7 linked regions of the Homo sapiens genome follow. The protein of the gene in region 7 interacts with the protein of the main gene of each other region in a biochemical or structural test. Each region holds a gene or a part of one and is shown on either strand. Other genes may lie near its edges.

Evidence for each region.
Region 1: of the proteins of MAP3K1 (region 7) and PAK1, one has a biochemical effect on the other in vitro, tested with the Homo sapiens proteins (one study listed by BioGRID).
Region 2: of the proteins of MAP3K1 (region 7) and FAF2, one has a biochemical effect on the other in vitro, tested with the Homo sapiens proteins (one large-scale study listed by BioGRID).
Region 3: of the proteins of MAP3K1 (region 7) and MINDY3, one has a biochemical effect on the other in vitro, tested with the Homo sapiens proteins (one large-scale study listed by BioGRID).
Region 4: of the proteins of MAP3K1 (region 7) and ZFAND5, one has a biochemical effect on the other in vitro, tested with the Homo sapiens proteins (one large-scale study listed by BioGRID).
Region 5: of the proteins of MAP3K1 (region 7) and NOTCH1, one has a biochemical effect on the other in vitro, tested with the Homo sapiens proteins (one study listed by BioGRID).
Region 6: of the proteins of MAP3K1 (region 7) and RNF141, one has a biochemical effect on the other in vitro, tested with the Homo sapiens proteins (one large-scale study listed by BioGRID).

The regions. Positions count from the first base shown.
Region 1 is NC_000011.10:77,463,512-77,467,924, forward strand, and holds part of PAK1 (serine/threonine-protein kinase PAK 1), read right to left. Parts: intron 1-4,413. UniProt on the Homo sapiens protein: Protein kinase involved in intracellular signaling pathways downstream of integrins and receptor-type kinases that plays an important role in cytoskeleton dynamics, in cell adhesion, migration, proliferation, apoptosis, mitosis, and in vesicle-mediated transport processes.
Region 2 is NC_000005.10:176,496,885-176,500,384, forward strand, and holds part of FAF2 (FAS-associated factor 2), read left to right. Parts: intron 1-2,029; coding exon 2,030-2,201; intron 2,202-3,118; coding exon 3,119-3,262; intron 3,263-3,500. UniProt on the Homo sapiens protein: Plays an important role in endoplasmic reticulum-associated degradation (ERAD) that mediates ubiquitin-dependent degradation of misfolded endoplasmic reticulum proteins.
Region 3 is NC_000010.11:15,839,374-15,843,786, reverse strand, and holds part of MINDY3 (ubiquitin carboxyl-terminal hydrolase MINDY-3), read left to right. Parts: intron 1-514; coding exon 515-575; intron 576-2,187; coding exon 2,188-2,361; intron 2,362-4,413. UniProt on the Homo sapiens protein: Hydrolase that can remove 'Lys-48'-linked conjugated ubiquitin from proteins.
Region 4 is NC_000009.12:72,358,203-72,362,615, reverse strand, and holds part of ZFAND5 (AN1-type zinc finger protein 5), read left to right. Parts: intron 1-1,828; 5' UTR 1,829-1,837; coding exon 1,838-1,988; intron 1,989-2,394; coding exon 2,395-2,506; intron 2,507-3,094; coding exon 3,095-3,198; intron 3,199-4,413. UniProt on the Homo sapiens protein: Involved in protein degradation via the ubiquitin-proteasome system. May act by anchoring ubiquitinated proteins to the proteasome. Plays a role in ubiquitin-mediated protein degradation during muscle atrophy.
Region 5 is NC_000009.12:136,500,152-136,504,564, reverse strand, and holds part of NOTCH1 (neurogenic locus notch homolog protein 1 preproprotein), read left to right. Parts: intron 1-1,234; coding exon 1,235-1,383; intron 1,384-2,076; coding exon 2,077-2,293; intron 2,294-2,476; coding exon 2,477-2,564; intron 2,565-2,651; coding exon 2,652-2,817; intron 2,818-3,717; coding exon 3,718-4,013; intron 4,014-4,413. UniProt on the Homo sapiens protein: Functions as a receptor for membrane-bound ligands Jagged-1 (JAG1), Jagged-2 (JAG2) and Delta-1 (DLL1) to regulate cell-fate determination.
Region 6 is NC_000011.10:10,516,638-10,521,050, forward strand, and holds part of RNF141 (RING finger protein 141), read right to left. Parts: intron 2,505-4,413; coding exon 2,397-2,504; intron 1-2,396. UniProt on the Homo sapiens protein: May be involved in spermatogenesis.
Region 7 is NC_000005.10:56,821,663-56,826,075, forward strand, and holds part of MAP3K1 (mitogen-activated protein kinase kinase kinase 1), read left to right. Parts: intron 1-4,413. UniProt on the Homo sapiens protein: Component of a protein kinase signal transduction cascade. Activates the ERK and JNK kinase pathways by phosphorylation of MAP2K1 and MAP2K4. May phosphorylate the MAPK8/JNK1 kinase.

The sequences.
Region 1 (4,413 bases), on a different chromosome or scaffold from region 7:
CAAGACCACTTGGAAACTTGTATTAATCAATTTATTCTTCATCAATATTTATTTACTTGTTTGTTTTAGCTAACAATGAAATAGAGCATTCTACTCCCAAGATACTATGCTAAAAGTGCTTGTTCATCTCCTCATTCTAGCACTCTAGAGAGGAGAAGAGAGACTTTGGCAATTACTGTCTCCATCTATAAAATCAGACTTGATAATCCCCTCTCAGTCCCTTCGGATTAACTAGGATATTACACAGGGTAGCGTTTTGAAAGGTCTCTTCCTCCCACTCCAACTTCATCTCATACCATTTACTCTTGCTTCCTATACAACAGCCATAATTTTTTTTAGTTCCTCTATGTTGAGGTAAACCAGCATTATCCAACTGAAAGATACGGTTAGCCTTAAAGAAAAGCCACATATGTAATCTCAAATTTTCTAGTAGCCATATTTTAAAGTTTGTAAAGAGGTGAAATTAATTTTAAAATACATTTAACCCAATATATTCAAAATATTAACAATTCAACATATAACCAATATAAAAAGTTAATGAGTTATTTTACATTATTTTTTCAGTATTGTCTTCAAACTCTGGTATGTATTTTATTTACACTTACAGTGCATCTCTATGTGAATCAGTCAGTGTGCTCAACAGCCACACTGGCTAAGTAGCTACCATATTGAGCAGCACATCTCTAAACTTTTACCTACTCTCAGGGCCTTTGTGCATTTAAAATGTTCCCTCTGCCTGACATGCTTTTTCCCCCTCAGTGTTCTGCATGACTAAAATCTATTTATCATGCACATCTCAGTTTAAAAGCATCATTTCCTCAATGAGGTCTTTTCCTTATCACTCCAAAATTCTCTACATTAGTCCTTTATCTCTTTTGTAGGACTTATCAAAATCTGCAACTGTCCACTTGTATATCTACTTACTTTTCTCTGTATTACCCTCTGGAATGTAATCTTTGTAAGAGCAAGGACAAGGACCATGTCTGTATTATTTATGAGTGTATCCTTAGTACTAAGTACAATGCTTGGCACACAGGAAGAAATCAATAAATATGTGTAGTCTAATTAAGGAATAAATAGAAGCACTATAGAGCTGTACAGATGCTCCTTGACTTATGATTAGGTTACGACCTGATAAACCCAACTTACACTGAAATACTTTAAGTCAAAAATGCATTTAATACACCTAACATACCAAACATCGTAGCTCAGCCTACCCAACCTTAAACATACTCAGAACACTTACGTTCACCTACAGTTATGCAAAATCATCTAACACAGAGTCTATTTTTTAATAAAGTGATGAATATCTCATGTAATTTATTCAATACTGCACTGAAAGTGATTGGATGGGTATTCCAAGTATGGTTTCTACTGAATGCATATTGCTTTTACACCATCATAAAGTCGAAAAATCATTAAGTTGAACCCCTGTAAGTCAGGGACCAGCTGTATTGGATTGGTACATACATGAAAGAGTGTGTGTGTGTGTGTGTGTGTGTCTGTGTGTGTGTCTGTGTGTGTGTGAAGAATATACTCAGCAGCCATTCCTAACTGTCCTGGAACCTTTACCACATAGTCAACTAAGTCAATTATCCGGCAAGTGGCAATGGATAGTAAAAAAACGATTTTTTGAAAGAGTTAGAGGGAACTATAAATATATTTTACCATTCTCCTAGGAACCTACAATTTTTTAAAAAGTGCCACTGGTCAGGGCAGCACCCAAATGATCAGGAACAGGTGACCAGATTTGGAGACAGAAAATATGAATTAAAGATTCCAGTTTGTAACTTCCCAGCTACATAATCATGCCACTTAACTTCTGTTCATTTATAAAAATATGATGGCTAAAGAACAGAATTAAGTTAAATGAGACTCTATATAAAAGGGTTTTGAAAACAGTAAAGCACAAAAATTATATATATAATCCTATATATAATCTCTAGAAAGTCCAGGAAACTTGGACTTTTCAAGTCTATCACAATGGGCTTTCTCATTTTGCTCACCTGGTTCTTTATTTTTTTTTAAGTTACTTTACAAATTACATATGTAATTTATTAAATTAAGCAAAATCTATCCTGGATACCAAAAAAATCTCAGACTCTGGACTGGTGAGATAATTCCATATGAGAAAATAAGTGGGAGGGAATGTTATAAAATAGTAATTCTTGGCCGGGCAAAGTGGCTCATGCCTGTAATTCCAGCACGTTGGGAGGCTGAGGCGGGCAGTTCACTTGAGTCCAGCCTGGGCAACACGGCAAAACCCTGTCTCTACAAAAAATACAAAAATTAGCTGGGCTTAGTAGCATGCCCCTGTGGTCCCAGCTACTCGGAGACTAAAGTGAGACGATTGCTTGAGCCCGGGAGGGCAGCACTGCAGTGAGCTATGATGGAGCTACTGTACTCCAACCTGGATGACAGAGCAAGACCCTGTCTCAAAAAAATAAATAAATAAAATATTAATAGTAATTCTCTAACAGGTAATTGGAGAACCAAGAGCCCCTCCAACTATACCAAGTCCCTCTTTACCCATCCCCAAAACTGGCAATTTACATTTTGTTCCTGTAGCCCATTGGGAACTATTTCCATAGTGAAATACTGTTACTGATGGACTACATCCCAGTGTATCACAGAGAAAGGGTGAGGGCAGGGAGTAGGTGAGAAGGTTAAGAATCACTGTCGAAATATTCAAGCAAAGAAGTTGGCATCAAATTCAACACATTTATATGACAGCTAAGGAAAACTGAGTCTCAGGACGGTTAAGTGACTTGCTGTGGTTACACAGTAATAATTTTTAAAAATGTCTTCAAGGCCGGGCGAGGTGGCTCACGCCTGTAATCCCAGCACTTTGGGAGGCAGAAGCGGGCAGATCACAAGGTCAGGAGATTGAGACCATCCTGGCTAACACGGTGAAACCCTGTCTCTACTAAAAATACAAAAAATTAGCCGGGCATGGTGGCACGCACCTGTGGTCCCAGCTACTTGGGAGGCTGAGGCAGGGGAATGGCGTGAACCCGGGAGGCAGAGCTTGCGGTGAGCCGACATCGCATCACTGCACTCCAGCCTGGGCGACAGAGCAAGACTCCATCTCAAAAAAAAAAAAAAGTCTTCAAATGACAGCTTGATGTCTCTGCTCCTAAATTTCCTCATCTGTAAAATGAGTTAGCCAACATCAGTCTAGCACATTACAGCTTCCAAATTGTTGTGCATATATCCACAGAGCTTACCTGATTCCCTACCACACCGCAAAAGTCTAAGACGGCTATGGTGTAATAGAAAAAGCATGATGAACTAAACAATCATAAGAACCTGGCTTCAGATCTTAGCTGTGCTGTATAGCCTCAGCAAGTCAATTAACCTCTTTGTGTTTTCTTCTATCAAATGAATATAAAACAACACCTGTCCTAGCTAACCCAGGGGATTGTCCAAAGAATAAAGTCAGATAATATCAGTAAAAGTATTTTGTACATTATACAAAAGGCCCTTCATCATCTGGGCCCTGCCTCCTCTCTGCTCTCACGCCTCCCCACTTTACACCCTATCTTCTAAGCATACTAAACTACACAGGGCTCCCCAAACAGGCTCTCAAATCTTCTGCTCACATATTGCTCTCTCTTTCAAGAGGGTCCATCATCTCCCCTTTCTTCTCACCCCTCCCTGACTGTGCTTCGTTAACCCCTGATCATTTTTCAGAACCCATCTTAGATGTCACCTCCTTTAAGAATGCTTGCCAGGCCACCCCCATTTCAAGTGCAGCAGATGCCCTTCCTCTGTGTTCACATGGCACTTGCACTTATCTCCATATTTTTGTCATTTTTTGTCTCAATGTAGTGTAATTGTCTATGCACATGTCTGTTTCTCCCGGAAACTATAAACCCAAGGGTAGAGGCTATGATTCATCTGTTTATTCAGAACCTATGACAATGCCTGATGCATAATATGTATTTAGCAAATGAATGAACTTTAAATGGCAATAAAATATTACTTTTCATATAATACTTACATAAGACATTTATGCAAAACATTGTTAATATAAGGCAGTGCTTCTCAACTTTGCATATCAGAATCACCTATAAACCTTTCAAAATAGAGATGCCAAGGCAACTCTTTACATCTTCACAAGTAATTCAAGTGCATAGCCGAAATTAAAACCACTGCTACACACAATCATAGTCATAAAATTACAAACTACTCTACCTAACATCTATATAGCTCAGTATCTTACAATTCACTTTTACATATATTATTAATCTTCACAAGAATTCTGTAAGTTAGGTATTATTTCTTTCAAATGAACAAATAGAGATTTAAATAAGTGTCCAAGTAGCTCTTTGTCTAACTTCAAATTTTGTGCTCTTCCTTAAACCCTCCCTTGGTAAGTGCAGTAATACACAAATCAAGGGTTCCACCAGT
Region 2 (3,500 bases), about 120 Mb from region 7:
CAGTGGCTAACACCTGAAATCCTAGCACGTTAGGAGGCTGAGGCAGGAGGATTACTTGAATCCAGACTGGGCAGCAAAGCGAGACCCCATCTCTACAAAAAATAAGAAAAAATTAGCTAGGCATGGTGGTACATGCCTGTAGTCCCAGGTCCTTGGGAGCCCGAGGCAGGAGGATTGCTTGAGGCCAGGAGTTCGAGGCAGCAGTGAGCTCTGATTGTGCCTCTGCACTCCAGCCTGGATGACAGAGCAGGACTCTGTCTTTAAAAAATAATAAATGAATGAATAAACAAAGACAGGCCTCTGTGCTCAAGAATGTATATTGTGGCATTTAGAATAGCTGAATATAATATAAAGAACTTCGATGTAAAAAAAAAAGTGGAATGGTTATAATTCCTCTCCATTACATAAGTTATGTACATTAATTATAGGAAATCCTAAAACCACAAAAAAGCACAAGGAAGAAATTTAAGATCACTGATAAACCTACCACCACTTGAACATTGTTATAAATTTTTTTAATTTTATACACAACACACACCCCTATATACGTACACATTTATTTGTAAAATTGGGATAATACTTTTTTACAACCCTTCTTTATGTAAGAATATATCACGGCCTTTTCCCTCATCATTAAATATTCTGCCACATTTTAAAAATTACTGCATAACATTCCATTATCTAAATACATCATAATTTAACCAGGCCACTCTCGTTGGATTTTTAGATTATTTTCGGTTTGTTACTATTATAATTAGCATATAGGGAGATAATTTTTTGCAATTTGTGATGGTTTCCTTAGATTAAAATTTAAATTCCTGGAAGTGCAGTTTCTGGGTGAGACAATCAATATAAGTATATTTTAAGGCTCTTGATTTGTAATGCCAACTTGCCCTCAAGAAAGTTAAACAAACTTAAATTTTATGGAAAGTTTTTAATAACATGGGGACATGCTTGTTACATATTAGAAAAATGCAGAATCAGGCCGAGCATGTTGGCTCATACCTGTAATCCGAGCATTTCGGGAGGCTGAGGTAAGAAGATTGCTTGAACTCAGGAGTTTGAGGTCAGCCCGGGCAACATGGTGAAACCCCATCTCTACAAAAAATACAAAAATTAGCTAGGCGTGGTGGCACACGCCTGTAAGCTGAGGTGGCAGGATTGCTTTAGCCTAGGAGGTTGAGGCTGCAGTGAGTCATGATCGCACCACTGCACTCTAGCCTGGGTGACAGGCTAGCCCTGTCTCCAAAAAAAAAGAAAAATGCAAGATCAAAATCCTGTAAATAATAGCGTTATTTTAACTGTGTAAAAAAATGTATAGAACAGGAAACTTTCCGAGGTAACTGAAATGTTCTGTCTTGATTGGAGTGGTGATTACATGGTTACATTTATCAAAATTCATTGAATTGTACATTTAAGATCTGTGCATTTCACTGCATGTAAATTTTATCTTAATTTTTAAAGATAAAATCTGTTCAACTATTTTGATTGGCTAAATATTTTGGCTAAGAGAAAACAGAAATTTGTTGGAGAGAAAATAGGAGATATGCCAAATGTTATAATGTTTTATCTTTGATTAGTGATTCTCTGAATGACTCTGAAAACTCTACATTTTCAGATCTGCTACAATGTGTGTATGGATATATATGTGTGTGTTTTGGTTTTATGAGATCAGTACAAAAATGCAGTCACCCAAAATGGTATTTACTTGTAAAATATGATATTGATGATCCCTTCATAATAACAGTACTGTGTCACATTTGTTAGAATTAGGGGAAAAGTTTTATTTTAAAAGAGGAGAGGAAAGCTTGCTGTTTCCTTTTCTGCCAAATTAAACTGAGAAAAAAGGTGGCTTATTCAGATTCTGCCACGCTCTGCTTTTGGAATCCCTTATGGCAGTGTGAAATCGTCATCTGCTAAGAATATCAACATTTTTACACACACACACACACAGAAGATTTCAATATAAGAAAACACAGAACTTTGTGAGAGTGCTGTTTTTCTTCTCTTGCTTTTGATCTATTCACAGGGAAGAAAGAAACCAGACCCAAGTGCTGAGACAACAGCAGGATGAGGCCTACCTGGCCTCTCTCAGAGCTGACCAGGAGAAAGAAAGAAAGAAACGGGAGGAGCGGGAGCGTAAGCGGCGGAAGGAGGAGGAGGTGCAACAGCAAAAGTTGGCAGAGGAGAGACGGCGGCAGGTAATGGACGTGTGGCTTTACTCCCTGTGGTTCCCAAACTGCCGAGACTTTGCCATCTTGGTCTTAAGTGTGAAAGGAAAAAATGATAGCCACCTTAAACAGACTAAGAGGGAAAAAAAAAAAGGAAAAAGGAAAGAAAAAATTACAACATGTTGGAATTAGGGGTGATTTAAATTTTTCATACCATTTAAATATTCATTCTTTTTTAAATAAAAATTTAAAAAAAGAGACGGGCTTTGCCATATTGGCCAGGCTGCTCTCGAACTCCTGACCTCACATGATCTGCCTGTCTTGGCCTTCCAAAGTGTTGGGATTACAGGCGTGAGCCACCATGCCTGGCCCTAAATATTCATTCTTAATACCAGTATTAGCTGATTTGGCATTTTACTCATTATCTTTTTGTTTTTGTTTTGTTTTGTTTTGTTGTTGTTTTTGTTCCCTAGCAATCAGACTGAGATATACATTATCTTATTTGATTATGTATTACCGCTTACCTATAACCAGTGTCTTTTAGTCATTTCCTTTTATTTCTTTTTTTTTTTTAAGAGACAGGGTCTCACTGTGTTGCCCAGGCTGGCGTGCAGTGGCTATTCACCAGTGCAATCATGGAGCACTACACCCTGAAACTCTTGGGCTTAAGAAGTCCTGCTGTGGCCTCTGAAGTAGCTGGAACTACAGGCACATACCATGGCACCCTGCTCCCTTTCTCCTTTTTCTCAAATAAATACCTAGACATAATAAAGAATACATGAGATGCAATTGTACTTTAAATTTAGGTTGTTTTTGACTATTCCTGAGAGGTTTTTCTTAGAATACTTAGTCATTAATTTTTCTTCTGACGACTGCGTAATAAAGCTACATGGTCATTGTATTTATTTCTTGAGCTGTAGCCTCACCTTTGCTTTGTGTCTCTGCAGAATTTACAGGAGGAAAAGGAAAGGAAGTTGGAATGCCTGCCCCCTGAACCTTCCCCTGATGACCCTGAAAGTGTCAAGATCATCTTCAAATTACCTAATGATTCTCGAGTAGAGAGACGATTCCACTTTTCACAGTCTCTAACAGTAAGGACCACCTAAGTTCTGTGAAGTGTATGTAGCATCTGGGCTATAGATTTGGAGCTTTTACTGACTCTTGAGAGTGGTGTTGGTGTATCTGCTGCTCTGATGAACAGGGAACAGAGAGAGAGAGAGAGAGATGGGTATGCCATCCGTGGACACCAGGAAGAGTACCGAGGACTGCTGTAGGCTCCTTCAGTTCTAGTTTCCAACTCAAAGCAATTTTTAAGTTTTTGTTTAATTA
Region 3 (4,413 bases), on a different chromosome or scaffold from region 7:
CATTTGTCTTTTCTTCTGAATCTTGTACCTTTTTGAGTTAAACTTGAGCTCCTGATAATAAAGTGATGACTCTAATAGTGTTAATCTTGTGTCACAGATGAAGACTAAGGGAACAGAACCACTTTTATATTTAGATTTCTTTTACCTGAAGGAATCTAAATGAAATGTAGACTTGTTCGTGTTCTACAGGGCTTTCACTTTGTGAATAGAGCAGTAAGTTTGTGTGCTTTTCAGTTATTCTGTTATGTGAGTTAGTTCTTCTACTTGTCAGAAAATATGTATTGTGGAAGAAGAAGAATTTTATGAATCTAGAATCAAGTTTATAGCAGTATACTCTGAATAAATAACTGCACAGTTCCTGTCAAATGTGAGGGGAACCCATTTGACATCTTTACAGAACTAGTCAAAAGATTAGAAAGGGAGTACACATTATTTTTTCCCACTTTAAAATTGAAGAATGATATGATGTATGGTTATAATGCATTTCACTAATTATTGCTTTAATTGTGTAAAGGCATTTCTTTTGAAGAAGCTCCTGTTTTCTTCGGAGAAGTCTTCTTGGCGGGATTGTTCAGGTATGATAGCTGTCTTTTAAAACTTTTGCTTCCTCCTCTGTTTTAATAGAGATGATCTAAAATTATCTGAGAAAGTCAAGTATCAGTGGGAATTTTTTTTCCTGAGGTTTCCTTTTAAAATGTTTTAGAAAGTTTCATGAACAGTGACTCCATATTTCCAAATTTGGCTTTCTAACCAGGGGTTATAAGACATGATGGTATAACTAAGGGAAAAACGTTTGGCCTCTTGGTAAAACACGGTGCATTTCCTAGAACTGTTAGGTGGCAGCATGCCATAAAGAACAGTCTTTTTTTTTTTTTTTTTTTTGTAGTCTTATTTAGCTGTGGGCAAGACCTCAGAATTATCATTATATTCCTGCATGTTTTAGTATAATGCCTTACACAATGCAAATACTGCAAATAATTTTGGATGAAATTGCAAATGAAGCTGTCATAGCTTCTGTAACATGAGCTTCTGTACCCAGAGAGATGTGTGGTGCCACCTTATAATAACAAGAATTTGCATTCCACGTGACAGTTTACAAAGATCTTTCCTTCACTTACACAATTTCCTGTGAACCTCACAGTAAATTCTGGAAGAAGTTAGGACACATTACAATCCCAGTTTTGTATCTAAGGATGTAACAGCTTACATTCCAAACCATGACTATAGAATCTACTAATGATTTTGAATTTAAGAGTTAAGGGATCACTTCCATAAGTTTTAAATTAATAGGTGAAATACAAAACAAATTTTAGTAGAGAAGAAACTATTTGAGATACTATTTTTGAAATGAACTTTTAATAAAATTTATACTATTTCTTATACTATATTCACTATATTCACTTTGATAAAACATTTGTAAAGCATTGTCATAAGTGTCATAAATACTGTGGTGATTAGAAAGTGAACAGCATAGTTCCTGCAGTTAAAGAACTGTTAATCCATTAGGAGAGACAGAAACCTCCTTGTATCATAAAATTTTTGAAAGTTTCAGAAAGTAATACTACTTCTTGAGAGTAATACTGCTTGAAAAGAGTGTGGCTAAGGTTCATAAAGAGATGGTCTGAGCATTTGCGCCATTTTCTATAAAATTCTAATGCTCAAATCTGTATTCTAACCACTGGCTTCTGCTGATGTAATGGACTTTGGTAACATATGTGCTGACGGTCTCTCATCTCATTATTCTTATCCCTTTGGGACGGGGTGATCATAGACGTTAGATTAATTCAGATGTGAGGGAAAAAAAATAGAGGTTTCAACAGGCCTTTACATTGTGCTCAGTTCTTCAGTAGAGGAAACCTCTTGGCTTAAATGCTGCAGTTGCTAAAGTTTTAAGAAAGTGATGATCAGTGTCACATTATGATCTTTCATAATGTTTAGTTCTGCATTTTTCAGTATTCTTTTTCTACTTGGTGGTGTTATTTGGATGGCTTTATTTAAAGTGGTGATATTTTAATCCACAAACACATTGTTTTTCTAAGACATAATTTAAAATCTATTTAGAGATTTTTCCCCCATTTTTAAAATGCTTGATTTTCATCATTAACCCATTCTTACTATTGTTATTCATGACAGAATTTTTTTTTTTCCAGAGGAAACCATTATAACTTATGCTTTGGTTATTTTTAGAGGAAGAGCAGAAGGAACTCCTTTGTCATACCTTGTGTGATATTTTAGAAAGTGCTTGTTGTGACCACTCTGGATCATACTGCTTGGTTTCATGGTTAAGAGGAAAGACAACTGAGGAAACTGCTAGTATTTCTGGGAGTCCTGCAGAGTCTAGTTGCCAAGTGGAACATTCTTGTAAGATATATTTTTATTTCCTGAAGTTTTTTTCTTGTTCCTTTGTTTTAATGAATCTATTGAATATTTTGAAGAAAAAATTACTTAAAATTTTCATAACATGTATTCTTTTCCAGCTTAAGCTTAATTACTGAGCCTCACTATTTTTTATTTCCATATCATTTATTTTAACTACTTAGAAGATACTACATTTTTGCAAAAAAAAATGCATCTCTTAAACTTTTAAAAATGTTCTGGTTAACTTCTGCTTGATAATAATCTCTTTTGAGCTTTAGAACTCTTATTTAGAAATAATGATATGCTTCAGTTTCAGATGCCTTAATGTTTTGCTTTGGTATTGCAAAAACGGATTTTTTTGGACATCAGAAGATTTCATAAAGTTATCTTTACTTGCTTCCCAGAGCAAAGATGGGGACATTTCTCCTCATTGCAAGCTGTTTCTTTTCTTTCCGAATTATTTGGATATTTTTATACATATAGATTATTTTAAGGCAATTTTAATTATGCCTTAAGTTTTTCATACCTTGAAGATAAGTTAAATAATAGCTGTTTACGTTAAATAATAGCTATTCTCATTATTCATAAAAATTATATATTCTGTGGTTTTTAACTTTTGAAAATTGTTATGTAATTGACCCGAAAGCTGCCAGTGTGAAATGGAGACAGCTAGTGGTACGGAAGCTAGTTAAGAGTTGCTTTTCTGATTTGCTTTTCAGGAATAATCTTGCTAGTTGATGGTTTTTTATAATTGGTAGTCCCAAGTGCTTATGTTAAATAAGTGACTTATTCTACCCACAGAGCATCACATTAACTATCATCTTTGTGGAAAGTTTTCGTAAAGAGATTACGTACCTGAAAGTACACTTCAATTGTATGGGATACACATTTTGCTTTCCATATAGTATTATCTATAAGGTGCTGTTGCCTCCCTGGACTAAAATGCCTCTGTGTTGTCAGTGTCTTTTTTCTCCTACCTCTGCAGTTAAAATGCCTTAAGCCTGGCAAATTCTAATAGTAGTAACATTTGCAAGGAATAATTTTGAACATTTGAACAGCTATATGATGCTTCCTTTTGAAGCCTTTGAAATATGGCCTTTCAAAAAGAACTTAACATATTTTAGAGTTTATAATGACATTTGAAGACAACAAGTGGAAAACAGTCACAAGGATGCTAGTCCAAAGTGTCACTAAGATTGGTTTTAACATATTCTCCAGGTTTTACTGTGTGGGTGTTAGCACACTTAATAGGTTCATTTAGGATATTAAAATTTTGAAAGAGGAATTGTTGATCTTTTGAAAAGGTATTTTAAAGATTTTGTGCTTAAAGCCAGTCTGTATATTGATGTGAGAAAATAGTAAGATCTTTTTATATAACATTTTCCATTAGTATCTTAACAGTATACTGAGTGCATACTATGAAATATGCTATGCAGTTCTGTGGTGATACGTCACGTTGCTATAGGTTAAAGGGCCTTATAATGCATTCCCTTTGGTACTTCAGTAACTAATTTAGATGGGCATATTATATTGAATTACCCTCCAGAAAACATTTTAGTAATTTTTCCAGTTTACTTTGTATCTCATTTTAAAAGTTGCCATGAAGTAAACCATATTTTAAATTTTTTAAATAATGTATACATTTGAAATACTTTGTTAACTGAAAATTTGAGAATTTACCTTAGTGACAAATGAACTGTATTTATATTACAATTTTTATTCCGTGTAACAATCTATTTTACCTGTTCTTTCCTTTATTCCCAGCTTTGTTCTTTTTCTTGTGTTTTATATTTTTTCACCATCCCTGCCTGCTAAGCTTTTTATTTTGCTTGCCTCTTTTCTCTAAATTATTATCTTTATGTCTACTCTTGTAGTATACCCAGTAAAACTATTTAGATAATCTAATGTTGCAGAACAAGCAGTATAATTTGGAAAAGATTAGGTAGAATTTTCATTTTCTGAAAGTTTTAATGTAAAGTGTTTTCCCCTCTTGTTAATATTACTTTCTCTACAAACATTAATTTCATTGGCTTATGTGGTGTGTATAGTTTTGGC
Region 4 (4,413 bases), on a different chromosome or scaffold from region 7:
AAGTTGGAATACTTTGTTATCTCTGAGTGTGTGAAATCTTTAGATGGAGTATCCTCCATTTTATCTAAAACAAATATTTTAAGAATCAGATTAACTAAAATTACTTAGGTAGGTTGATCGCTTGGCCTTAAACTTTAAAGCCAATGTCACATGAGACTGGGCCTCAGTGTAGAAAATGTAAGCTAGCATACTTAAACTGGTTTTAAGGAGTGACCCAACTTTCATGCATAGGGCAAACATTCACACATATTTTGTGCGTGGTGGGCATGCAAATACATACATATTTATCATTTGAAAGCATTTTTTGCTCCTATTATGCTCATTTAAAAACCCAGCTGAAAGTGTTTATTAATAAACTTCCTAAGTGATGTTGAAATGTTTACACTACCCTGCTCCAAAATGAGTCAGCTAAATTCCAGTTAATATTTAAAGAGACAGTGTCAACTAAATTAATACTGTTGTTAAAAGTAAGTTGTGGATCTTGGTCACTCCACACAAGCTAGATTGTCTTAATATTTGTATGGTGCACTTTTACTTACAAAAGGGAAGATAAAATGTTTTGGGGAATAATTACCAGGGGTCTGGCCAGGTCAAAATTGGTTAGTCCCCTTCTCCCATCTTCTAATTTTGGTAGTTAATACTTGTTAAAACATCGTTTTTTAATAACTCACTAAAAAGTGTATTCTAGTATGTAGTTGGAAAAAATGACTGACCACAAGTTACAGCACACGAATTTTCCTTTAAGCAAATGCTCTCAAATATGCTTTTTGTACATATGCTTATACATGTTTAAGATGACATGAAAACCCTCCACAACTTTATTTTAAAATAATTTTTCTTTAATATGTATTTTCTCATCCAGAGGAAAACTTATTAATAATTTAGCACAGCGTTTTAACAAGACTTTTAGAAAAGCAAATCTTCCTTGGAAACAAATGCTTGCTATGTAAAGCTTTTTCTGGTAACCCAGCATTGAATATTAACCATTACTAAAGGTTATGTGTATATATTGACTTTAATACATTGAATTTGAGCTTGGAACGGTTTTATTATTTTCTGGTATGAGGAAGACAAGCACTTGTTAAAATTAATAGTGCCTTTGGCTGAGAAATCTGGTTCATAATTTGTGTATTGCAGGTTCCTAGGCACTGGCTTTGACATACTCTGAAACTTCAAATGGAGAACGTAAAAGGAGTTTCGTAAACCAGCTGACCCTAAATTCTTAGAGATTTACTTGTTGGTGCCAGGGTAGCAGGAAGGGCTACCAGTTCTCTTTTCAGCCTTATATGAAGATGTTTCAGCATTAAAAAGTACAGATGCTCTGCCTCAGCAGATTTGTCAAATTACTGATGAAGCCCAGATATGTACAGGTGTTTTAAGAAAACTTTATTCATCCAGTTTAAAGAACTACCTATAAATATCAAGACTCAGTGATAATTGTGATTAGCCAATTAAGTAAAAACATTTGAAATGGTCTGCCTGTAGTGCAGCAGAGTGAAAAGTTAAAGATACCAGTTTCCCAAATTGATTAAAACATAACCCTGAGAGCTAACAGACCTTTTCATAAATTGAAACCAAGAATAGTGATAGGTAAAAATACCCTAATAATTGATAAAATTTCTTTTTGGGTTTTTTTTTGGTCCTAAAACAGTTTGCTTTTATAAAGGCAACAAAATATTGATAATTATCTCTGCCCACCCTTTTTAATGATTAACGGAATTTGGGCTTTTGTTAAAACTTGCGTAGCAATTACAACGGTATACCGATGATTATATTAGACTATATTTTGGTGATAACACTAATTTCTGAAATTTCGTTTCATCTATAGCAGAAAAATATGGCTCAGGAGACTAACCAGACCCCGGGGCCCATGCTGTGTAGCACAGGATGTGGCTTTTATGGAAATCCTAGGACAAATGGAATGTGTTCAGTTTGCTACAAAGAACATCTTCAGAGGCAGCAAAATAGTGGCAGAATGAGCCCAATGGGTAAGTTATTTCCAAGGAAAAACACATTTGAAAGAACTGGTGGACAGAAATACAGAACCAAGAATTGGGGCTGAGAATGCTGAAAGCACATGGAGAGAACACCTGATAAGAGCTTGAAATTCAAGCAACAGCCCAAGTGCTTGACATGACTGATCAGGAATGAATGACTATCTACAAGCATCTTATAGCTTTTCAGTTTTCTTTTTTGGGGTTATTTTGTTTCACACTTGTGTTCATTGGATTGACTTTTTAATATTTTTTGTTTGGATACTCAAGTATAGGATTACAGCACAGTGAATGCTTATATCACTAACCTAATTAAATGCAAGTATTTATTACTACGTCTTGATACTAAGTGAGTTTTTGTAGTGTTCATTGGTTCCTTACAAATCCTTTTTTTAAATAGGAACAGCTAGTGGTTCCAACAGTCCTACCTCAGATTCTGCATCTGTACAGAGAGCAGACACTAGCTTAAACAACTGTGAAGGTGCTGCTGGCAGCACATCTGAAAAATCAAGGTAAGATTGAACGTTTCAGAGTTTTTATGATATTACAAAGAAGAAATCAAGATGTCTGTACTGGTCCAATAATAAGTTAATAGATACCCTTGGCTTTGCAATCGAGGATTTCAGTGTCTTTTAATACATGACTCTTAAGTCATTGAGTAAAGATGTGTGTTACTTACACCTGACTCCCTAACCCCCTCAAGGATACTGTGTTGGAAATGCTGTGCTTTTTTATTTCTTTGTAATTGAGGTTTAGGGATTGTCGAGTGAGACTGTAGAATATTATTGGGCCAGACAAGGTGTTTTGGCAGAGCTGCCCTTTTGCCCTTAAACAAGTTACAGGCACAGCTAAAAATCCCTAGCTGGTTGTAAAATATGGTAACCTATACAAAATGCAGCCTCGAGTTCATGAGCCATTTATCAAACTTTTTTCTCAACCATTTGTGCTGGGCATCCAATTTTTTTTTAAACTTTAGATTATCTAGCTCCATTTGCTCATTTTGGAAATATTCTATAATTTAAAGTTGAACTGACAACTTATTCATTGTCTCAAGAAGTACCCTTAACACCTTTAAAAATTGTTTGCTTGAACTCAAATAGAAATGTGCCTGTGGCTGCCTTGCCTGTAACTCAGCAAATGACAGAAATGAGCATTTCAAGAGAGGACAAAATAACTACCCCGAAAACAGAGGTGTCAGAGCCAGGTATGTTTTTCATTTAATACTTGTTCAGTTCTGAATTTGATAGTGCAAGAAATGGCTGGTGGGGGGATTCTTTCCTTCCCATTGAAGGACCAAAGAGGAGGGAGAGCCATAAAATATAGGCCAAGCAAAGAACTACTATCTTTAAAAGTATCTTGAGTATGAGTATCTTGAAGTGTAAAATAGTCATATTTATTCTCAGTTTCTTCTCTGCTCATCCCCTGCACTACCCTTGTGCATAATGGGCAAAGTCTGTAATCTGGAGATTGGATGTGTTAAAAACTTGATGAAGTTAAATTTCAAGGGTATAAGGAATAATTTTATAACCAAAAGCAGTAACTTTAGTTTTGATATTGTCAATGTTGTGGAAAACTTTTAAGTAGAACAACATATTTGAACACTAGAACTTATTTGAAGTACAATATTCCTATCATATTTTGTGGGAGTTTGAAACTCAGTGTGGAAAGGCATTTTGGTTTTCATGAGATATGGTGACTTTGGAAACTTTGCTTATATAGCACAACCAGAAGTGCCCTGATGGTGGAAGAAGACTGACTTGAATTACCTGTACTAGGCCCTAGAACAAAAAGATTTCTGTGCTTTATATAGTGCACGTAGCTTATTTTATCAATTTGTTCTTTTTTGGCAGAGTGCTGATTAAATGCAATATAAAACTTCTGTTGTGAAAAAATACTGTCAGTGGTTATACAGTCTGCTTTGGAGGCTGGCTTTTGCTAACAGCAGTCAAGTTTGTTTATTGTATTAATCTTACAAAGTTAAGGCCAAATTCTCAAGTTTGGCAGGTGAATCTATATTTGGCATTTTGAAATGAGCTCCATCCTTAAACTGACCACATTAGTTTGCCCGTGATGCCTTTGTTTGGGTTTTTGTTTTTGGTTTTGGTTTTTAAATACAAAATTACTCTGACCTTGGAAGAATAGTCTTGGGTTAGAGCTAGTCTGCATTTATTATTACTTAGTAGGCATTCTGTGATTCACTGCTATTTGCCTTTTCTGTGTCATTTTCTTATTCCCCCTTCTTCCCTTGTCTCAGGAGCCGTAGTTCATTTTTCAGATGTGGCCAAAGAAATGGCTGACACCCTCCCTCTACCCCATACAACTATTCCCCTAGATTATTCTTTATCCTCATGACATCAGGATAAACATTAATGTTGTCACAGTAGCAGTAGGTAGAATATTGTTCGTTTAGTCTAATATT
Region 5 (4,413 bases), on a different chromosome or scaffold from region 7:
CTTTATGGTAAAAGAGACGGAGGTTCCGAGAGGACCTGGGACTTCAGGGCCTGCGCAGGCAAGGAGTAGAGGCAGCATTCCAGCTCAGGGCCCTGACCCCACAGCCACACCCTTTTCCTGGGCCACTGCCTTCCCCTGGACAGGCGGCACTCCTGTGCCCAGTAGGTGATTTTGAGATTGAGCTGTGCCTTAGGCACTGGATACTACACTGATTAAAACTCAGCCCTCTGCCAGGCGAGGAGGCTCACACCTGTAATCCCAGCACTTTGGGAGGCTGAGGCAGGCGGAGCCCTTGAGCCCAGGAGTTCGAGACCAGTCTGGGCAACATAGGGAGACCTTGTCTCTGTTTTTTTTAAAAAAGTATTAAAAGAAGTAAAAAACAAAACACTCAGCTCTCCAGGGGTTCCCACAGGGCTGAACAGCCCCACCCCAGACAAGAATGCCGCTTGGTCATGGCGTCTGCCTGGCTTGGGCTGGAGAGGAGGCAGGTGGAGGTCCTGGGAGGGGGCATTGCTGGGCCTTGCAGTTGGAGGAGGAGCTGGTGGGGGTGGGGGGTCCCACGGTGGGAGAACACAGGCAGGAGCAGCTTGAGTGCAGGGGGCACCCCACAAGGCTCCCGCCCATGCCTACTCGATCTGGGGCAGCTGGACCCAGGAGCCAGGTTGGTTGTGCCCTTCGTGTGCCTGACCCTGGTGGGTTTGCCTGTCAGTTCTGCTGGCTTGGAGCAATCCTGGAGGTCAGAAGCATCATCTCACAGGCTGGATGGGATCCTGCTCACGGGAACCCAGTCCTGGGGAGCAGAGCTCACCCCCAGCCAGCCTCACCACACAGCCCACCACCGCTGCACCCACCCCCACCTCACGCCTGTGCTTCCTGCAGGGCCTGGGGATGGCTCCTGGGGGAGGACTGGGCTCCTGGCACATACTCTGTCCTGAGATGAGGAAACGTGTCTGTGGCACCAGCAGGAGCCAGAGAGGGTGTCAGGGCGGGCCAGGGAGAGCGCGTTGGTGGGTATCTGGGATGAGCCGTGATCAGCACTGGCCGGAGTCGGGGGGCTGGCACCAGTCCCCTGCAGGGTAGCTGCTGTCAGACCTGGCTTCCCACCACCCCAGGCTGCCTCACCATGTCCTGACTGTGGCGTCATGGGCCTCAGTGTCCTGCGGCAGCATCCCTGGCCGGTGGGCGGGGGAGGAGGAAGCCTCGGGTCCCAGCCCCTCTCTGATTGTCCGCCCAGCTCCATCGTCTACCTGGAGATTGACAACCGGCAGTGTGTGCAGGCCTCCTCGCAGTGCTTCCAGAGTGCCACCGACGTGGCCGCATTCCTGGGAGCGCTCGCCTCGCTGGGCAGCCTCAACATCCCCTACAAGATCGAGGCCGTGCAGAGTAAGTGTGGCCCCATCCCGGGAACAGGCTCTGCCTGCAGGGGGTGCCATCCCCCCGTGCCCCAGACACGCTGGCTGTTTGTGCCAGTTGCTACCCACGGGTGTGAGCGTTGCCGTCCGAGTTGGGGTAGGGCTTTTCTGGAATTTTCTGAATGGCACTCCGCCCCCACCTGCGGCGGTCACAGCTGCCGGTGGAGCCACCTGGGAACGAGTCCAGCCACGGGAAAGTGGGTGCCTGCTTCTCTCCCCACCCTTTCCTCCTGAATTTTCTTTGTTGGGTATTATTTCAAAATCATTACGGCTTTTTTTAAAGAAAAAAAAAGAGAGAGAGAGAAGAATTGATCGGTGTCATGTGAAGTGTTGAAGTTTGTATCTTGAAAATCCCTCTAAATCCTTTGTCTTAACAGCTCAGTGCGAGTGCAGCGATTTGAAGTTGACTAATCCTCCTTCCTTAAAGGAGAAAAAAGTAAAAGCCGTCTCCAGATAGAGTCGGCTGGTGCAGGAGAGAATTTAGCGATAGTTTGCAATTCTGATTAATCGCGTAGAAAATGACCTTATTTTGGAGGGCGGGATGGAGGAGAGTGGGTGAGGAGGCGCCCGGACGCGGAGCCAGTCCGCCGCCCCCCGGCCACCAGCCTGCTGCGTAGCCGCTGCCTGATGTCCGGGCACCTGCCCCTGGCCCCCGTGCCCGCAGGTGAGACCGTGGAGCCGCCCCCGCCGGCGCAGCTGCACTTCATGTACGTGGCGGCGGCCGCCTTTGTGCTTCTGTTCTTCGTGGGCTGCGGGGTGCTGCTGTCCCGCAAGCGCCGGCGGCAGCATGGCCAGCTCTGGTTCCCTGAGGGCTTCAAAGTGTCTGAGGCCAGCAAGAAGAAGCGGCGGGAGCCCCTCGGCGAGGACTCCGTGGGCCTCAAGTGAGCGGACGCCGCCCCTGCTTCTGGGTCCCCGGTGGGAGGTGGGACCTGGCCGAGCATCCTCACCGGGAGTCTGCCCCTCCCGACCCAGGGCCCACCTCCCACGCCAGGCCCGGGCCAGGGGTCTCTGGGGGCTTCCTAGGGAGCTCGCTCAGCCTCACTTCTCGACCCCTCACCCCCCAGGCCCCTGAAGAACGCTTCAGACGGTGCCCTCATGGACGACAACCAGAATGAGTGGGGGGACGAGGACCTGGAGACCAAGAAGTTCCGGGTGAGTCGCGAGGCTCCCGGGCTCCTGGGCTCCCGGGCACCTGCTGCCGGGCTGCCCTGACAGGCTCTGCTCACTCCCTCTATGTAGTTCGAGGAGCCCGTGGTTCTGCCTGACCTGGACGACCAGACAGACCACCGGCAGTGGACTCAGCAGCACCTGGATGCCGCTGACCTGCGCATGTCTGCCATGGCCCCCACACCGCCCCAGGGTGAGGTTGACGCCGACTGCATGGACGTCAATGTCCGCGGGCCTGGTAAGGGTGCCAGCAGCCAGGGCTTCCCTAGCCCCGTGGCCCACCTGCCTCTCTCCCCTAAGCCCCGAGGCTGGGGTACAGTTGATACTCTGGAAACTTAGAATTGGGGGTGAGAGCTTTCATCCTTGGGGTGTTTCCCATTCAGAGTAGACGTGGGGGGGTCCTGGAGTCCTCCTGTTCTTCCACCAACCCCTTCCTGGGGTGATACCGCAGGGCCACTCTGTCCCTGTAAATTACTCTTTTCTGAAACCTTCTTGAGACATGGAAAGCGTTGATTTTCTTTTTCTTTTTTTTTTTCTTTTTTTTTTGTTTTTGAGATGGAGTCTCGCTCCGTCACCCAGGCTGGAGTGCAGTGGCACGATCTCGGCTCCCTGCAACCTCCACCTCTCGGGTTCAAGCAATTCTCCTGCCTCAGCCTCCCCAGTAGCTGGGACTACAGGCGCCTGCCACCACACCTGGCTAATTTTTGTATTTTTAGCAGCGATGGGGTTTCACCATGTTGGCCAGGCTGGTCTCGAACTCCTGACCTCAGGTGATCCGCCCACCTCGGCCTCCCCCAGTGCTAGGATGACAGCGTGAGCCTCCGCATCCTGCTGAAGCATTAATTTTCTAACTGCATGCTTCTGGGGTCCTCTTTTTCCTGGGTGGATTTTGGGTGCCAGGTCTTGGGCAGGTCAGGAAGCAGTTGCCCGCCAGGAGTTTAAGCTGGATTCGGCTCTGTCCACTGAGCAGCCCAGGCGGACTTCAGCTGCCCCTTGGTGGCTGTGTGCACGGGGCCACCAAGTGCTGGGTGGTGCATCCACACCGTGGCCCCTTGAGCTTGGGGCTGCTGCCCCCCTCCCCCTGGGCTGCAGCTGGGGACCGGCCCTCCAGACTGAGCACCCGTCTCTGCCTCTGCAGATGGCTTCACCCCGCTCATGATCGCCTCCTGCAGCGGGGGCGGCCTGGAGACGGGCAACAGCGAGGAAGAGGAGGACGCGCCGGCCGTCATCTCCGACTTCATCTACCAGGGCGCCAGCCTGCACAACCAGACAGACCGCACGGGCGAGACCGCCTTGCACCTGGCCGCCCGCTACTCACGCTCTGATGCCGCCAAGCGCCTGCTGGAGGCCAGCGCAGATGCCAACATCCAGGACAACATGGGCCGCACCCCGCTGCATGCGGCTGTGTCTGCCGACGCACAAGGTGTCTTCCAGGTAGGCAGTGGCTGCCTGTGTGCCCACCTGCCCTCCTCAGGGCCGCCTGGTGGTCTGGGGCAGTGGCCAGGCTTACGTGGCCCTGGGAGCCTGACCCCGAGCACAGCTGAGTCCGGGACAACTGGTGCCTCCACCTGGGACCTTCGCAGTCAGCGAGGTGCGAGGGGGAGGGCGTCGGGCCCATCTGTGTTCTCCAGGGAAGTCAGGCAGAGGCGGGTCTGGCAGGAGGCCTGGGGGATCTGCTGAGTGAGGCAGCACCTCCCCACCCCCAGCAAAACAGGCTCCATCAGGGTTGTGGGCCTTGCTCAAGGTCCAGGTTCCACTGCTGCAGCCCCTCGCAGCCCCGCCCCTCCCTCAACCTTGGCTGCCGGCGTAGCCTGTGGCAGTGAGAAGCAGGGTT
Region 6 (4,413 bases), on a different chromosome or scaffold from region 7:
ACCGAGGCTGAACAATCAATCAAAGGGCTTTGAGGGGATAGTCCCCTAAAGCTCACTGGGCCTGGGATACTGCCTGTTTCACCAGCCAGACTGGAAAACCTCATAACTCTTGGGGTATCAGTAGAGTTCTCTAAAGGGTCTTGCTATTAGTGGGACATAATTAGTTCTAAACTAAATACTGCTCTGGTCCTGCCTAACAAATCACAAAAGCAAGATCCAAAAGAATCAAACTGTTTCCAAGTCACTTAACTATAGTCCAGAAAAAAAGCTCAAGAATATTCATAGGAATACAAAAATATCCAATACCCAAAAAGGTAAAATTCACAAAGTCTGCCACAAAGTCTGGCATCCAGTTGAGAACTACCAGACATACAAAAAAGCAGCAGAAAAATATAATCTATAATAAAGAGAAAAATCAATCATAACCACCCAGAACTAACACAGATATTAGAATTAGCAGATAAAATGGAAAGTTATTATAGCTATATTCTATATAGTTAAAAAACTAGAGGAAAGCTCAAAGATAGTAAGAAGAGACATGAAAGATAATAAAAACCCAAATCAAACTTCTAGAAATGAAAATTATCTGAGGTTAAAAAAATACACTGGATAGAATTAATGGCAAGTTAGACATTGAAGAAAAATGGTGAATATGAAAAGAGATAGCAATAGTAACTATCCAGGATGAAACCCAGAGAAAGACTCAAAAAAGAAAGAAAAAAATAGCACCAGTGAGCTGTGAGACAACTTCAAGTGGGCTAATACATGGTAATTGGAATCACAGGAGAGGGGAGAGAAGATAGAAAAAAATCTGAAAAAATAATGGCTGAAAAATTTCCAAATTTGATGACACCGTAAATCAACAAATCCAAGAAGCTCAATAAACCCCAAGCACAAGAAACATGAAAAAACTACTCTAAGGCACATCATAATCAAAGTGCTCAAAACCAGTGAAAAGAAAACAACCTTAAAAACAGAGGGAAAAAATGGCACATTACCTACAGAGGAAAAAAGGATGACAGAGTTCTCATTAGAAACAATGCAAACAAGATGAGTGTGAAGCAACATTATTAACATACTGAAAGAAAAAATACTCTCAAGTCTAGAATTCTGAATCAGAAAAAAAGTCTTTGAAAAATGATATTCGGACATTCAAGAAGAGCCTATGGAATCTACAAAAATACTACCAGAACTGATACATGAGTTTAATAAGGGCGCAGGATACAAGGTTGATATACAAATATCTATTGTATTTCCATATACTAGTATCAATCATAAATTGAAATTTTAAATACCATTTAAAATAGCATAAAACTATGAAATACTTGGGGATAGATGTCAAAGATATGCAACACTGAAAACTAAAAAAATTGGTGACAGAAATTAAAGAAGACCTAAATAAGTGGAGAAATATACAGCGTATGTGGATAGGAAGATGCACTAGTAAGAAATTCACTCTCCCTAAATTGATATATTTATTCAATGCAATCTCATATGCTGCTAGTGGGGGTGTAAAATGGCACAAGACTGCTTTGGAAAATAGCTGGCAGCTTTTTAAAAAGTTAAACACACACATACCATATGATCTAGCCATTCCATGTCTAGGTATTCACCCAAGAAAAAAACCAAAATACATCCATAAAATGACTTGTCCATGAATGTATCTAGTACCTTTATTTTGTAATAGATAAATATGGAAAATAATCTAATTTCCCTCAATAGGTGAATAAACAAGCTATGGTATCCACATAACAGACATTACTCAGCAATAAAAAGGCATGAACTATTGATACATGCTACAACATGAATAAATACCAAGGTAATTAGACTGAATGAAAGAAGCCAGACAAAAAAAGCACATATTATATGATTCCATTTATAAAAATTCATAACTTTTATGGGTGTGTATATATGCCAAAACATATTAAACTGTACATTAAATACATGTAGTTTATTGTATGTATTTTATAAATTATCCTAAACGCTCAAGTCTTATTTTGTAAAATAATGAACTTGACTAGCTGATCTCTAAAGTTCCCTGAGGTCCAGTATTCAAGAATTTATTCCTTCTAAACACATACACAGAATAAATGTAGAAATGAGGAGAAAAAAAGGAGGAAAAAGGGAAATGTTTGATTTTAGACTTAAGTCAGGCACAAATTTTCATACAGCAAAAGAAAAGTGTCAAAACTAAGGTACACCCCCATATTTAATAAATGTTAGGTGTAAAAACAAAAATAGTTTTAACCAGTAGAAGGCATGCCATAAAATTCAAAGTACTAAAGAATAAAATCTCTCTCATACTTAACTACAGTATTTTTGCACTTTTCAAAGTTTATTCATGTACACTATCCCACTGACCTTGGCCCAGCCCATGAATGCAGTAGGTAACTTACCATTTATCAATACACTTCTGACAAAAGCTGTGAGCACAAGGCAGGATGAGGTCAGCCCGCCCATCCATACAGATACAACACTCCTCCTCATCGGTCAGCTGCTTCACCCTGCAATGTGAAAACTGAGCTGAAACAATTATATTCTCTGTCATTATGCTTTATACTTTTTGTTGCTTTAAAAAGCATTATTAAACATCTATATGCCCACAGTATAAAGCACAATATGACTCATGTGCAAAATCAGACTAAAATTAATATTATCTTTTAGGGATAGCAAATATATTAGGGAAAAAGTATTAAGAGGGCTACATTTCATAAAGAAAGACTAGATAAAAGATACATTTTGTGATAAAGAAAACATAGGCAAAAGTGGAAATAGTCAAATCTTTCTGGAAACAATTTAGCCCATTTTAATCATATTGGACTTAAATAAACAAATTTAACCGATATAGTTATTGCATTAAAGACAGAGATACGGTCTGAGAAACTCATTGTTAGGTGATTTCATTGCTGTGTAAATATCATAGTGTACTTATACAAACCTAGATGGTTTAGCCTACTACTACATACCTAGGCTATATGGCATAGTCTATTGCTTCTAGGCTACAAACATATATAGCATGTTACTGTATGGAACACTGTAGGCTACTGTAACACAATGGTAGGTATCTGTGTATCTAAATGTATCTGAACACAGAGAAGGTACTGTGTAAATACGGTATACAAGATTAAAAATGGTACACCTGTATAGGGCACTTACCATAAATGGAGCATGCGGGCCTGGAAGTTGCTCTAGGTGAGTCAGTGAGTGAGTAGTGGTGAGTGGATATGAAGGCCTAGGACAGGAGTGTACAATCTTTTGGCTTCCCTGGGCCACACTGGAAGAACTGTCTTTCTTGGGCCACATATATACTAACACTAACACTAACAATATCTGATGAGCTAAAAAAATTGCAAAAAAATCTCATGTTTTAAGAAGGTTTATGAATTTGTGTTGGGCCACATTAAAGCAATCCTGGGCTGCATGCAGCCCGTGGGCCGTGAGTTGAACAAGCTTGGCCTAGGACATTACTGTATAGCACTTGTACAGTAGTGTACAGACTTTATGAACACTGTACATTTAGGCTATACGAAATTTATAAAAAATATATTTCTTCAATGATAAATTAATCTTTACTATAGATTTTTAACTTTATAAACTTTTTACTTTTAACTTTTTGACTCTTTTTGTAACAACACTTACCTTAAAACACACATTATACAGCTGTACAGAAATATTTTATAAGCTTTTTTCTATTTTTAAGATTTATTTACTTTTTTACTTTCTAAACTTTTTTCTTAAAAACTAAGACATAACACACACATTAGCCTAGGCCTAAACAGCGTCAGGATCACCACCATCACTGTCTTCCGCCTCCACCTCTTGTCCCACTGGAAGGTCTTCAGGGGCAGTAACATGCACGGAGCTGTCATCTCCTTTGATAACAATGCCTTCTGGAATACCTGCTGAAGGGCCTGCCTGAGGCTGTTTTACAGCTAACTTTTTTTAATAAGTAGAAGGAGTATACTCTAAAATGATTAAAAAGTATAGTATAGTATAATAAATGCATAAACCAGTAACATAATTATCAAGTATTACTGTACATAATTGTAAGTGCTATACTTTTATACTATGAGCAGCACAGTAGGTTTGTTTACACCAGCATCACCAAGAACATTTGAGTAATGCATTGCATCACAATATTAGGATGGCTACGACGTCCACAGGCAATAGGAATTTTTTAGCTCCATTATAATCTTGAGACCACCATCACATATGCAGTCTGTGATTAACCAAAACATTGTTAGGTGATACATGACCATATAATTTATTCACTATGTGTAACACAAAGCTCCCTAAAATATGGATCCTGCCATCAGGGCCTTACAATGCTGACATTGATAATGGGCATATGAGTGAAAGAATAGTTTAGTCTTAAGTATCAGGTGCTGTGAGAGATACAAAGGGAATAAAAAG
Region 7 (4,413 bases):
TGCAAGCCACTGTGTCTGGCTTTACTTTTCTTCATTGCCTAAACAATAATTTAAGTTATATGTTAACACATAATCTTCAAACTGGTCTTATGGTATTCTGAATACTAAACATCAGTTGTTAACAGACCAGGAACTTTATCTGATTCTTTGCACCATCTCCCAGCATCTAGACTAGTGTCTGGCACCCATGAATATTAGGTACCCAGAAATGTTAACATGAATTAATTTTCCAAAAGTGGTTAAATTAGTATATCTGAAGATTAACTTACTGTAGTGAGATTTTAATCATGATCTAGCTTAAGACGAGTTTTGAAGGCAAGAACTGTCTTTTTTTAGGAGTTTTTGTATATCGTTTGGTATTTATTTATTTATTTTTGAGACGGAGTCTTGCTCTGTTGCCCAGGCTGGAGTGCAGTGGCGCAATCTTTGCTCACTGCAGCCTCTGCCTCCTAGGTTCAAGCAATTCTCCTGCCTAGCCTCCCGAGTAGCTTGCTGGGATTACAGGCATGCCCCACTATGCCCAGTTAATTTTTGTATTTTTTTGTAGAGACAGGGTTTCACCATGTTGGCCAGGCTGGTCTTGAACTCCTGACCTCAAGTGATCCACCCACCTTGGCCTCCCAAAGTGCTGGGATTACAGAAATGAGCCACTGCGGCCAGACCATTGCTTGATGTTTAATAGCAGTAGTTGGCATTTAGCAAGCAGTCATTGATAATATTGACCAATTTTATGTAATGTGAGCCTTCTAATAATTAGTGTAGTTACAAAATAATTGGAGCCATGCTCAAACTGTCAAATATTGAGAAAACTGAATTCCTGGTATTTGAAAGTGTCTAATTATTTGCGTTAATTGGTAAGCCCCTCCTGATTTTCTACTTAACCATGACACTTCTTCCGTGGCGCCCATCTTCATTCTCTTGAACATTGATACTGGAAGATTCCCAGGGTGGTCCTAGGCCTTCTCTCATTCTGTCTTGTCGATCCCCACCCCAGTCTTATTAATGCCCTTAGATCAGTTATGGACCATTTACAAATGATTGCAGAGTTTATTGTCCTAACCATGATCTCTCCTAAAGTCCAGACCTACACCTGGCTACATGACTTCTGCGCAGTCAGATGTCTAAAACCAAATTAAAGATCTTCCCTAAACCTTCTCCTAACATGTTCCCTGCTCATTAAATGGCAGAACCAGAACCCAGGAGTCACCCTTGACACCTCCTCCTCTCACCTCGTCAGATTCAGACCATCCTTAGGTGCTGGCAGTTTGACCTGTTATCACACCCCTAGCCAGGTGCCCATTGTCTCTCATTTCCACTAACTTAGTGGCCTCCTTGCCTGATCCCTGTGTCCTTTCTCCTTTGCTGTCCGTTCCAATCTGTATTAGGTGGCCAGAGTGATCATTTCCAAATGTAAATCTGATCATAACTTCCTCCCTCCAGAAAAGTAAATGTAATTTAATTTTAAGATGTTCAGATGGCTTCCATTTGGATAAAGACCAGGAAATCTTTAACATGCCTGACCGAGTCCCTGCCCGGTTGGGCCCCTGTCTGCTTCTCCAGGCCCATCTCAGCTCACACTTGCCCTTGTTCCGTGGCAGGGTTGCGTGCTTTCATTTCCTCAGACTCACTCACTGCCTTCTTCTATAGGGCCCTCACATGCTCCCTCTGCCAGGAACACTGTTTTTCCATAAAGTCAGCTCCTCGTTGTTAAAATCTTAACTCATTGACACTTCCTCAGGGAAGCTTTCCCTCATCCACCCAGACTGGCTTTGTAGCAGGGTGTCCCTACTGTCAGTGTTGTGCTTTTACATTTGTTACCTCATTTGATGAATGACTGCCTTCCCCCTAGCACCTAGCAGGATGCCTGGCATAGGGTAGACACTGCATAAATATTTATTGAATAAATGAATGAGAGGGATAATGGCATGGCATGTTCAAATTAGTGGATCCACTGTTTTTCCTGTTTAGTCAGACGTAGTTTAGGACATAGCTGAAAAGGTGTTAAATGGCAAAAGTCTAGACTATGGTGTTTCAACACTGTAGATTTGTGATAGACTCATTCAGAGGTACCTGGACTTGTAGACGTGCCTGGTGGCTCGAGTGAAATAGGACAGCTTAATGTAGTAGAGAGCAAATAGCTATACTGCATGACAACTTTATAGGTAAGAAGAGTCTGCTATGTGTATATAATTATTCTGTACTTAATAGGGAGTTAAGAGTGCGTGTGTGTATATATATGCATTTATATATTCACACATACATCTGTGAATAAATATACACATAAAGGTGTCATGCATTAATATAATTATTCTTATTTTTAAAGTTCTCAGAATGTCATCTAAACTTAAGATATCATTTTTAGAATTCTTATCTGATAACCCTACTTCATCCAAAATTCATTAATTTGATCATAATTCAACTTGGGATAAATAAAAGTTCACATTTCCATTGAAGAAAATATTTGTTAGGCAAGTACTCCATGAGATTGCAGAAGCCAAGAACCCATGTAACAAAACATTTCAAAGTTTACTGTTGGTAAGTAAACCCAGCAGCCTCTCTTATCTAGAACATGGGTTAGCACTAAGAAGTAAGAAAAAATACTCTAAGCAGCCAAAGGACCTGTAACAAAATATGTGCTTTGAAGCACTTTGATTTTACACTTAGTAGAGTTCCCAGGGCATTTGCTCAGGATTGATACTTATTTCAGATGTTGTTCATGCAGTGTTGTTCATGTGGTGTTCCTAACATGCAGCAATTAGAAGCAGCCAGTTAGAAGGGGTGGCGGTGTGAGTCCTGCAAGAGGCAGGTTCCCCAAAGGCAGCAGTGTTGGCACACCTGACAGTGAGAGGAGAGAGGGAGAATAGGACTCAAAACATTGCAGTCGGGGGCCACCTAGCATTGGTACAATTAGTTCCATCTAGGGCAGCCTCTGCCATTTAAAAATATACTCAGTGAAGTGAAGTTGGAAAGCTTGTAATATAGATTAAGGAAAATTACTATCCAAGATAGTTATAGAAAGTGTCTTGATCTTTGAAGTGGTAAACCTCTAACTGTTCTGTAAGATGTATTTCTGTAGCCTTGATGATACTGAATAAATATGTACTTTAGAATTACATAAAAATGGATGCTGCTTACCGAATGTCTTATCTATTATCTGTGTGGAGAAATCTTTTTTGTTATTGTTGACCTGAGTCATTTTATACCTTGCAGTTTCTTTAAAATGCATAATAATCACCACTACCACTAATATACTGATCTTTTCCGGTTTTTTAAAAAAAATTTTTATTTTTTTTTTTGAGACGGAGTCTTAAAGATATTTTTCTTGCTCCAAGGGTCTAGATTCTTCTTTTTTTGTTGTTGTTGAGATGGAGTTTCGCTCTTGTTGCCCAGGCTGGAGTGCAATGGCACAATCTTGGTTCACCACAACCTCCGCCTCCCAGGTTCAGGCAATTCTCCTGCCTCAGCCTCTTGAGTAGCTGGGATTACAGGCGCCTGCCACCACTTCCAACTTTTTAAATTTTTGTATTTTTAGTAGAGACAGGGTTTCACCATGTTGGCCAGGCTGGTCTTGAACTCCTGACCTCAGGTAATCCACCCGCCTCAGCTTCCCAAAGTGCTGAGATTACAGGTGTGAGCCACCATGCCCGGCCAGGTCTAGATTCTTAAATAACCAAATTTCAAGTTTTGTACAAAGATTGAAGGAAAGCTAGTCTTTAACCAGGAAGAAAAGGATTTGTTAAGAGATTATCAGCCGTATCTTTGCTGACTCATTGATACTGTGGTGCCTAAGACATCTTGGCTTTTGTGACAGAATCCTGCATACAACTTTCTCCAGGATAGTTCCTCCAGGAGGGACCCCTCTGCCAGGCACTGTGGCAGTCACATGTCCAGGCTGCATCTCTGCCCTGCTCAGCCTCTTCATCCTTGCATTCAGATCTCCATGTGGTTTAGGGTGCCCATCAGGGTAAACACTGCCATTGTCTCTTTAATTGCTGTGCTCTTACTCTTCTGGCTTTCACACCTTCAGCTTCCAATCAGTCACCAGTTCTTGTTATTGCCACTCTCCTAGTAGCCTGAGAATCCATCCAACTTCCTCCACTGCCATGACTGCTAACCCAGGGTCAGGCCACTGTCAACCCACTGTCAACCTTTTCTTCACCCTCAGAATGAAGTCCAGACTCCATAATGCAGTTCAGAAACCCTTAGGACTCAGGCTTCTGCTCACTTTCAGCAGCCCCTCAGAATGGTCTGCTCCCGTCATTTCAGCATCGTGCTCAGTTTTAGTCCCTCAACTGACCGTTCTTCTTTTTTTTTTTTAAAGAAAACAATTTTTATTTAAAAATTTATTTTATAAGAAGTATTGGCATGAATACATAGATAAGGCATTTGAAATGGCTTCTCTGGTTGGACTGT